Linked DNA regions of Homo sapiens: region 1 is linked to region 2. The links come from fine-mapping of genetic effects on gene expression. A gene starts in region 2. The other region holds a variant in brackets. All regions are shown on one strand. Distances are between the middles of the regions. Region 1 has its middle 23 kb from the start of PLAUR. Region 2 holds the start of PLAUR (plasminogen activator, urokinase receptor).

What was found. PIP is the estimated chance that this variant, and not a neighbour inherited with it, causes the effect.
Region 1: its variant is the best candidate, but not a certain one, in a credible set for the expression of PLAUR in whole blood (TOPMed, PIP 0.81).

What each region holds. Positions count from the first base shown.
Region 1 is chr19:43,690,263-43,695,637 of GRCh38, forward strand. It overlaps the pseudogene LOC105372412. Among named protein-coding and RNA genes, the nearest start is that of PLAUR, 23 kb to the left of the region's middle. The variant G/A (reference allele first, on the strand shown) is at 2,753.
Region 2 is chr19:43,668,080-43,673,405 of GRCh38, forward strand. It overlaps PLAUR (plasminogen activator, urokinase receptor), which reads right to left and starts at 2,090. Exons shown (of 7, transcript NM_002659.4): 1 at 1,987-2,090. The coding sequence starts at 2,041. It overlaps LOC124904724 (a long non-coding RNA gene), which reads left to right and starts at 685. Exons shown (of 3, transcript XR_007067264.1): 1 at 685-1,104; 2 at 1,947-2,401. RefSeq lists silencers at 589-818, 859-938 and an enhancer at 1,859-2,158.

The DNA of each region.
Region 1 (5,375 bases), 22 kb after region 2:
GCAGTGGCTCACACCTGTAATCCCAGTACTTTGGGGGGCTAAGGTGGGAGGATTACTTGAGCCCAGGAGTTCAAGACCAACCTGGGCTACATAGCAAGTTCCCATCTCGAAAACAAAAACAAAAACAAAAAAACCCCAAATCACTCACAAGGTGGGTGGCTAAAAATGACAATCATTTAATGATCTCTTCCAGTTTCTTTGGTTTGGGAATTCAGGAAGAGCTCCTCTGGAGAGTTCTGAGTCTCTCGTATGTTGTAGTCAGAGGGTGTTAAGAGCTGGAACTGCTGGGGCAGGAACAACCAGGGGCTTTCTGAGCATCTCTTGCATATATGTAAGCACAGGCCTTTCTATGTGGCCTCTCCACATCGGTTAGATTGAGCTTCCTCCCATCATGGCTACCTCAAGGCTCTTTACATGGTGGCTAACGATTTCATTCAGCAAACAAAGTTACAGCTGCTTGGTCTTTATGTCTCAGCCTTGGAAGTCACATAATGTAACTTCTATTCTGCTTTATTGATCAAAATGGTCACAAAAGTTCCATCTGGTTTCAAGATGAAAGAGGCATGGACCCCACCTGTTGATGTGTCATAGATTTGCAAAGGTATTTTTAAATCACCAGTATGATTTGCAAACAGTTGGAGGAGAGGCCTTTTCAGCAAAAGATTTATAATATAACCACAGTAGCCAGAGGATAGACTAATTATGAAGCCAATCAAAGGATCGAGAGCAGTAGCCTGGGCTTCTGCTTTTGGCAGTATGGTGGACTCAATCCTCTAAAAGGTCTTCTGCTCCAAACAGTGGCACACTGGGAAGGTGGAGGACTGAGACAGTGAAATAGAGGAAGTGGCCCATCATGGTTGGGAGGAGCAGTTTATCACTGACATTGCTTAGAATTGCTGGTACTACCTGGTGATAATAAAAAGCAAACTGATTTTTAGTTGGTTTTATGATTTAAAAAAATTCTCTATAGGCTGGGCACGGTGGTTCATGCCTGTGATCCCAGCACTTTGGGAAACTGAGGCGGGTGGATCACTTGAGCACAGGAGTTCGAGACCAGCCTGGCCAACATGGTGAAACCCCATCTCTGTTAAAAATACAAAAATTACCTGAGTATGGTGGCACACACCTGTAATCTCAGCTACTTGGGAGGCTCAGGTAGGAGTGAGCCGAGATTGTGCCACTGCACTCCAGCCTGGGTGACAGAGTGAGACTCTGTCTCAAAAAAAAAAAATTCTCTATAGACACTAAGCCCCTTGTAGCCTGTTCCCAGGCTGGACTGCTCCCACTCCCTTCCCCTGCTTGGTATGCCACTGTTTACAGATAAACAAGATCCTGTACAGAAATATTTTTCCACACTTTTTGGGGTTGCAGAAAGTTAAGAAAATGTCCACGTGTCCCTAAGCAAAACAAAAATGTGAACAGAAATCATAATGGGAGCAGTGAGAAAACATGGAAGGCATGGTGGCCTGGGAGCAAATGCTGATAATAACCTGCTTTAGGTAAACAGGTCTTGGGCTGGCAGCATGCTTCTGGAATTTAGATTCCCACATAAGCAAGGGACCTCGGACAGAAGCCAAAATGATCCCTGGTCAGTAGCACCTCCTGGCACTCAGTAGAATCAAAAGCAATTCCTTCCCAGGGAAAAGCTCCCAGGATTCCCACAGATGAATATCAACCAAATATGAGCTCACAATCATAGTTCATGAAACGCACAAGGAAACAAGCCACCATGAGTGATAGCAGAAATAACAAATCACAGATACAGACCTGTGAGGAGCTCAGCTATTGTAATTATCAGCTGTAGAACATAGCGTACCGGCACGTGATATGTCTGAAGGAATAAACTTAGAATCACAAATGTGAGCAGGCAACAAGAGGTTGTAAAAACTGACCAGGTAGATTTGAAACTGAATCATATAGAACTACTAAGATGGCAACTTTCAGATAGCGAAAGATAGACATCAAGTTGGAAGGCTTGGACTCTGAGCCTCTTGTTGCAATCTCATCTCATTTCCACAGGGGGTCCCCAAATTCTGAAGGGCTGTGCTACACCAGAGGTCTGCAACTTACATGAGAATGCCACCCTGGGTCCAGAAGACTCTGGATTTCATCTCACCGCTAAGCCTGAATGCAACTGCCTTACTCCTACACATCCAGGTGCTTTGACCCCTGCCTTCCTAAAAACCCAACCTTTCTTACCTCCCTGGATCCCCTATGCTCTTTTCAAACCTATGTGTTCCCAGGGTGTCCACATTTCCTACGATAATGCTCCCAATGAGTACAGTTACCCATACACACACACACACCACCTGACACACTCAGAAGCAGAACATCTATTGGCACATATCCACAAACATCCACATTTACATCCTAGCACCCAAAACAAATATGCAGAGGCACACAAATTTCTAAACATGAACATACTCTGAACATATTATGTGAGTGAGGTTAAAGATCCACGTTCTCTTTAAATGGATCTGAGCCTGGGCAGCATGGCAAAACACCATCTCAACAAAACAACAACAACAACAAAACAAAGCCAGGCATGGTGGCATGCACCTGTGGTCCCACCTACTTGGAAGGCTGAGGTGGGAGGATGGCTTGAGCCCGGGAGGCGGAGGTCGCAGTGAGCTGAGATTGTGTCACTATACTCCAGCCTGGGTGATAGGGCAAGACCCCTTCTCAAAAAAAAAAAAAGGAAGAAAAGAAAAGATAAATCTGATGGTGTTTTCCCTCTTTTCTTCACTTCCTT[G/A]CTTGTGAAAGAAGACAGATTTGCCAATAGTCTTCTTTTGGCTTAACAAAGAACAGTCACAAGAAGTTTTGTCTTCCGCAAAAGTGATATGCTAATTGAAATAGTATTTACTGGGGCCACAGTTTATTAAGCAATTCAACCAACTGAACAGAGGGATAGACGTTTTAGAGGTGAGAAAGGCAATTTTCTCTGGATACAGCTGCATTCCCTCAGCTCCAGAGATGTAGAGGAAACTTTGTCAGAAACTACACCAGAAAGGACCATTCTCTCTCTCTGTGTGTGTGTGTGTGTGTGTGTGTGTGTGTGTGTGTGTGTGTGTGTGTATGTGTGTTTAGAGACAGAGTCGCCGTCTATTACCCAGGCTGAAGTGCAGTGGCACGATCATGGTTCAATGCAGCCTTGACTTTCCAAGCTCATGCAATCTTCCCACCTCAGCCTCCTGAGCAGCTAGCACCACAGGCACACACTGCTACACCCAGCTGATTTTTCAATTTTTTTTTTAGAGGTGAGGTCCTCCCTACGTTGCCAAAGCTGAAGAACCATTCTGTGATGCAAAAGAGAGTGTGTTTACTGGCCGGGCGCGGTGGCTCATGATTGTAATCCCAGCACTTTGGGAGGCCGAGATGGGCGGATCACGAGGTCAGGAGATCGAGACCATCCTGGCTAATACGACAAAAGCCTGTCTCTACTAAAAATACAAAAAATTAGCTGGGCGTGGTGGCTGGCACCTGTAGTCCCAGCTACTCAGGAGGCTGAGGCAGGAGAACGGTGTGAACCCGGGAGGTGGAGCTTGCAGTGAGCCGAGATTGCGCCACCGCACTCCAGCCTGGGTGACAGAGAGAGACTCTGTCTCAGAAAAAAAAAAAGGCTGATAGGAGAGTGTAGTTACTGAATTTGCAGGCAAAGCCGAAACATTCTCACCTTAGCTTCTTCAAATCTCCAGCTGCCAGGAGTTTTCCTTTTTTAAACTAAGCAATGGATTTTTTTTTTTTTTTTTTTTTTTTTGTGAGACAGAGTCTCTCTCTGTCGGCCAGGCTGGAGTGCAATGGTGCGATCTTGGCTCACTGCAACCTCCACCTCCTGGGTTCAAGCGATTTTCCCTGCCTCAGCTTCCCAGGTAGCTGGGATTGCAGGTACCCACCACCAAGCCTGGTGAATTTTTGTATTTTTAGTAGAGATGGGGTTTTGCCATGTTGGCCAGGCTGGTCTCGAACTCCTGACCTCAGGTGATCCACCTGCCTAGGCCCCCCAAAGTGCTGGGATTACAGGTGTGAGTCACTGTGACCAGCCCTGAGCAGCGGATTTAATTAATTATCACAATGAAGAAAAAAGGCTGACTTGGGAGCTCGAAATTTACAAGATGGAAAGAAAAAGGGCAAAATAGGAAGACTAACAACAGAAATGTGGGACGCGGAATTTTTGCACACATGATCCCTGTGGACACAGACACAGAACATATCTATGCATGGACACACAGGCTTTCATATATATGACATGGGAAAGAGACAGGCATAAACACCCACAAACATACAAAAGCACAAAATATACACAGGCAAGCTGAAATACATTACCAACATCCATGAACGTTCACATCTGTATACCAACATATATATATATACAAGCACCCCCACACCTTGATGGAAACACAGACACACCCAGCCACAGAAACACACACATACCCATAAAACCAGCCTTATACACATACACATAAACACACGCCTTTGTTTATACAGACACGCAGGTAAACACCTACTCACACAGTGTCCTGCAGAGCTACAAAAACACACATCCCTGACCTCCTGCAGACAGTTTCAGAAACACACAGACAATTCAACACAGGAAGGCACAGCCAGATGTGCACACAGACTTAACAGGCCTGCAAACTTGCACACACAAATGGCATTCTTGCAGAAGTGCGCACAAAAGGCACTTTTGCGCACTCATGGGCACATACTGATGTGCCTGGAAACTCAGCTCCATGCACGTGCATGCACACTGGTTGTCTTCCATCCAGTTCATCTTCCTCTGTCCCCAGGTCCTCATGCAACTGTGACCCACACCAAAGCTGAGACCACCGACTGCTTCACCTGCTGAGACCTCCACAGCTGTGGCCCCCTTCCATGCCCAGAGGATAATCACTACTGCCTTCAGATGGCAGGCATCACAGGTGAGTGCCCATGGGGACAGAAATAGGGCTTGGGGTACAGCAAGACCTATCCTCACTCTCCCACTTTGCTGCCTAGCTTCAGCCATTGTAGCCTTTTCCTGGACATGCAGGGCAGAGGCTAGGGTGCAGTGGAGGGTGTGAGTTTGAAATCTGCTGCCATAGTTGTTTAAGTTACTGCTGAATAACAAACTGGCCAGAACTTAGTGGCTTAACCAGTCATAAAAAGACAAATACTGTATGATTTCACTGAGTTATCTAGAGTAGTCAAAATCATTGAAACAGAAGATAGAATGGTGGTTGCCAGAGGTTGGGGGACGGGGGAATGGGAGTTGTTCAATGGGTACAGAGTTTCAGTTGTGCAAAATGAGTTCTAGAGAGCTGTTACACTCAACAATGTGAATATAGTTAACATTACTGAATTGTGCACTTAAAAATTGTTAAGAAGGCCAGCCGGGC
Region 2 (5,326 bases):
TGCTGGGGACGTTCTAGCCTTGCCCCACCCGCGTCGATCTTTATGTTATACCGTCACTCCCAGTGCCCTAATGGAACTATCCCTCCACTCACTCCCCCTGGTTCTACCCGGCTCCAGAGCCTCTCCCGGCCCACTAATTTATTCCCAAATTCTAGGCCCGGCCCCATCAGCCCTCCGGAGTTTCTATTGTTAGATACTCTAGTTTCCCGCGAAGTTCTGTCTCCGCCCTCCAGCTCTCCAACTAGGTTTTGGCCCCGCTCCAGACTCATCGTCGAGGTTCTAGCCCCGCCCTTTAGCTCTTCCTGACCTTATCTTCCCGCCCCCTAGCTCCTCCCCGATGCCATAACCCCGCCCCTAGCTCCTCCTCGAGGCTTTAGTCCCTCCCTCTAGCTCCTCCTTGAGATTCTAACTTCGCCCTTTAGCTCTCCCCGCCCCTAGTTTTCCCCTGAGGTCATAACTCCGCCCCAGTCCCTTCTTGAGGTTTCAGCCCCACCCTGTAGCTCCTCCCCGAGGTCGTAACCCCCGCCCCTTGGCCCCTTGAGGTCCTAGCCCAGCCCCGTAGCTCCTCCCCAAGCTTATAACCCCGCCCCTAGCCCCTCCTTGAGGTTCCAGCCCCGCCCTCTAGCTCCTCCCCGAGGTTATAATCCTGCCCCTCAAGAGTCTAGTCCCACCTTCTAGCTCCTCCCGAGGTTATAACTCCGCCCTCTGGTTACGCCTCGAGGTTATAACCCCGCCCTCTGGCTCCGCCTCGAGGTTCTAGCCCCGCTCCTAGCTCTTCCTCGGTCTGTAACCTCTCCCGTAGCTCTTCCTTGAGGTTCCAGCCCCGCCCTCTGGCTCCTCCCCGACACTCTCTCCCCGCCCCAGGCTCCGCCCCGAGATTGCAGCCCAGTCCCTAGGCCCGGTCCCCGACCTCCGGGCCTTCCCGGACATCCCTTTCCAGCTGCGCGTTCGGAGTATCCCGGAGCTGTTACTCATTCCCGGCCTCCCGCGGTCTCGAGCGCTTTCCGGGTTATTCATCGCGGCCCCAACACCCTGTGGCCACCCGCCCTGACTCAGTTCCTTCTCGAATTCCTCGACCCAGAGCCCCCCACATTTTCCGGGGAAGTAAGTGAGAGTCGCCTCAGTGAGAGGGAAAGGTCCTGAGGGACAGTCCCGGGTCTCCAGCACTGGCTCTGCGCCGCTCAGTCAGCCTCCCTTTGGGCCTTTTGTAAAAGGGGGTCCTGTCCCCCCGTTTCTCAGAGGGGGAGACCCAGCAGCGTGGAGAGCGCTGGGGGGCGCTGCAGGGTCAGATCCTGCGTATTCAAGCACTGGCTGTGTGATTTTAGGCCAGTTATCTAACCTCTCTGTGCCCTAGTTTCCTCTGCGAAACGAAATTAATAAAGTCCCATCGCCTAGTTTGAAATTGCAAGGAAGAGGCTTCGAAGAACTCCATTTAAAAAAAGAACACTTGGGCCGGGCGCGGTGGCTCACGCCTGTAATCCCAGCAGTTTGGGAGGCCGAGGCAGGTGGATCATCTGAGGTCAGGAGATTGAGACCATCCTGGCTAACAGAGTGAAACCCGGTCTCCACTAAAAATACAGAAATTAGCCGGGCGCGATGGCAGGCGCCTGTAATCCCAGCTACCCAGGAGGCTGAGGCAGGAGAATCGCTTGAACCCGGGCGGCAGAGGTTGCAGTGAGCCGAGATCGCGCCACTGCACTCCAGCCTGGGCGACAGAGTGAGACTCTGTCAAAAAAAAAAAAAAAAAAAAAAAAGCACTCACTAAATTATGTAAAGCTAAATGCCTTTGCTCCACTAATATTTCCTTAGCTACTGAGTGCCAGGTACTGCGCCGCGTGGCGTTGCACAAAGCACGAGAATTACTATTATTTGATTAGGGAGGATGCTGAGGACTGAACCGCATTCCTCCAACTCATCCTCTGACAACCCCCAACCCCCTCAATTAGACCCTGTTCCAGGCGCAGGCGTTCGGGACCCAGCCCCTACCTGGGACGCAGGTGTGGAGCAGCAGCAGCAGCGGCAGCAGCGGCGGGTGACCCATGTCGCGAGGGCAGCTCCTGTGCGCGGGGTCCCTGCACGTCTTCTCTCCTTCTGGCCTCAGGAAGGAGGCAGTTTTGTGGCCCCAGGGACTCCTCCCAGACGTTTTGCGAAAGAGCGAGTCAGCCCCAGATGCGTGGGCGCCTCCCCCTCCTCCCGTACGAACCTCCTCCGCCACAAACTTCCCTTCCCGGGGCGCGGCCGGCTGGTGGTGAAGGGGCTGGCTCGGCCCTGACTCATGGAGTTGTGATCACAGCTCTGTCCCCAGATTGCCTGGGTGCAAATCCCAGTTCTCTCTCTTCCTAACGTGGGACCCGGGGCAATCGCTCTCCACTGCTGTAAAATGAGGATAAAAACTTTGACGGTAAATATGAATGTGGCTGATTATTTGGCTAACAGGATTTTTGTTAGTTTTGTCAGGAGGGATACTGGTATTTTGGAAAATGTCCTTATCTAGAGATGCATCCTGAAATATGCATCTCTTAAACACTTAAAACACTTAACCCTTGCTTTGCTTCCCGCTGTGCCCCCAGCTCCTGGACCAGTGCCCAGCACGAAGTAGGTCCTTGGTAAATGTTAAAGGAATGTGTTGAGCCCTCCATTTTGGCCAGCAGCTATTCCAGGCATTGCACCTACATTAAAACACTTAATGGTGAAACCCCGTCTCTACTAAAAATACAAAAATTAGCCGGGCGTAGTGGCGTGTGTGTGTTACTTAGGAGGCTGAGGCAGGAGAATCGCTTGAACCCGGGAGGCGGAGGTTGGGTTGCAGTGAGCCGAGATCGTGCCACTGCACTCCAGCCTGGCAACAGAACAAGACTCCTTCTCACAGAAAAAAAAAAAAAAAAAAAAAAAGACACTTCAGCCAAAAAAGTAGATATCACTGTTACGACAATGGCTGTATGCTTAGGTGGGATTCTGGTTTTTGTTTGTTTGTTTGTTTTTGCAGATGCTTACTAGAGTATTTAGTGGTGAATGTTATTGATGTCTGCATTTTTTGTTGTTGTTGTTTTGGGGATTTTTGTTTTGTTTTTTCTTTTTCTTTTGTTTTCATTTTGATGTCTGTATTTATTTTATAATATTTTAGAAGAGGTCAGATGAGGTGGCTCATGCCTGTAACACCAATGCTTTGGGAAGCCAAGGCAGGAGGATCACTTGGGGCCAGGAGTTCAAGATCAGCTTGGGAAACATAAAGAGCCCTCATCTTTCCAAAAGAAATTAAAAATAAAATAAAATTAGCTGGGTGCAGTGGCCCGTACTTGTAGTCCTAGGTAGTTGGGAGGCTAAGGTGGGAGGACCGCTTGAACCTGGGAACTGGAAGCTGCAGTGAGCTATGATTGCACCACTGCACTCCAACCTGGGCAACAGAGCGAGACCCTGTCTCAAAAAAATAATAAATAAATAAATACTTGAGTAGAAAATAAAGGCAAAATAGCCAAATGGTTGTATCAATTATATAAAGGTAATCAGTATATAAGGGCATATTATGCCATTCTGTCTCCTTTTCTGTGGGTTTGAAAAGGCTTATAATAAGTTTTTTCTTTCTTTTTATTATTTATTTATTTATTTATTGAGACGAAGTCTCACTCTGTCACCCAGGCTAGAGTGCAGTGGTGCAATCTCGGCCACTGCAATCTCCGCCTCCTGGGTTCATGCAATTCTCCTGCCTCAGCCTCCTGAGTAACTGGGATTACAGGGGCACGCCAGCACACCCGGCTAATTTTTGTATTTTTAGTAGAGATGGGGTTTCACCATGTTGGTCAGGGTGGTCTCGAACTCCTGACCTCAGGTGATCCACCTGCCTTGTCCTTCCAAAGTGCTGGGATTACAGGCATGAGCCACTGCACCTGGCCAAGTTTTTTTTTTTTTTAAGTAAAATAAAATACTAAAGATAAAATTGTCTCCCCGTCTTAGGATGCATCTAACTAAACAGAGCAATTTAATGTAGGTGCAATGCCTGGAATAGCTGCTGGCCGAAATGGAGGGCTCAACACATTCCTTTAACATCTACCAAGGACCTACTTTGTGCTGGGCACTGGTCCAGGAGCTAGGGGCACAGCAGGACGCAAAGCAAAGTTCCCACCTTTTGTTGTGTTGACAGTGGGGAGCAGATATGTGTTATCTAATCTTTCACTGTCTGAGAGGGATAAGCAAACTGGAGAAAACAAAGCAGGCTGAAGGAAGTATCTGGGTGCAAATGAGGTGTGAGCTGTTTTAGGTGGGTGATCCAGGAGGGGTTCCCTGAGCAAGTGGCATTCAAGCAGAGGCTGAATGCAGTGAGGGAAGAAGTAGGGCAGATGGGCAGGGAACCTTTCCAAGGAGCAGGAACAACCAGTGCAAAGGCCTTGAGGTGGAAGCCTGATGAGATTCTAGGAACAGAAGAGATGTCAGTGTGGCTGGAACAGATTAGGAGAGGAAGAGAGTCGTAGGGGATGAGTAAGTGGTAGCTACTTCTACTGCTGTAATAATGATTATACTATGTGATTTGTTGTCGTTGTTGTTGTTGTTTTTGAGACAGAGTCTCACTTTGTCTCCCAGGCTGGATGCAATGGCGTGGTCTCGGCTCACTGCAACTTCCACCTCCCAGGTTCAAGGGATTCTCATGCATGCCTGGCTATTTTTTTTTTTTTTTTGAGTCGGAGTTTCTTTCTTGTTACCCAGGCTGGAGTGCAATGGCACGGTCTCGGCTCACTGCAACTTCTGCCTCCCAGGTTCAAGAGGTTCTCCTGCCTCAGCCTCCTGAGTAGCTGAGATTACAGGCATTCTCCACCATGCCTGGCGAATTTTTTGCATTTTTAGTAGAGATGGGGTTTCACCATGCTGGCCAGACTGGTCTTGAACTCCTGACTTCAGGTGATCCACCCGCCTCAGCCTCCCAAAATGCTGGGATTACAGGCTTGAACCACTGCGCCCAGCCCTAATTTTTGTATTCTTAGTAGAGATGGGGTTTCGCCATGTCGGCTAGGCTGGTCTCGAACTCCTGACTTCAGATGATCAACCTGCCTCAGCCTCCCAAAGTGCTGGGATTACAGGGGTGAGCCACCGCACCCGGCCCTAATTTTTGTATTGTTAGTAGAGATGGGGTTTCACCATGTCTGCCAGGCTGGTCTCTAACTCCTGACTACAGGTGATCCACCCACCTTGGCCTCCCAAATTGCTGAAATTACAGACATGAGCTACCGCTTCCAGCCTGTACTATGTGATTCTTACTAACTCATTGAAGCTGTAAGCTAATGATTTTAAGATAAGGTTAGAAAACAAAAAACAAAAAAACTCCCAATGGTGAGCA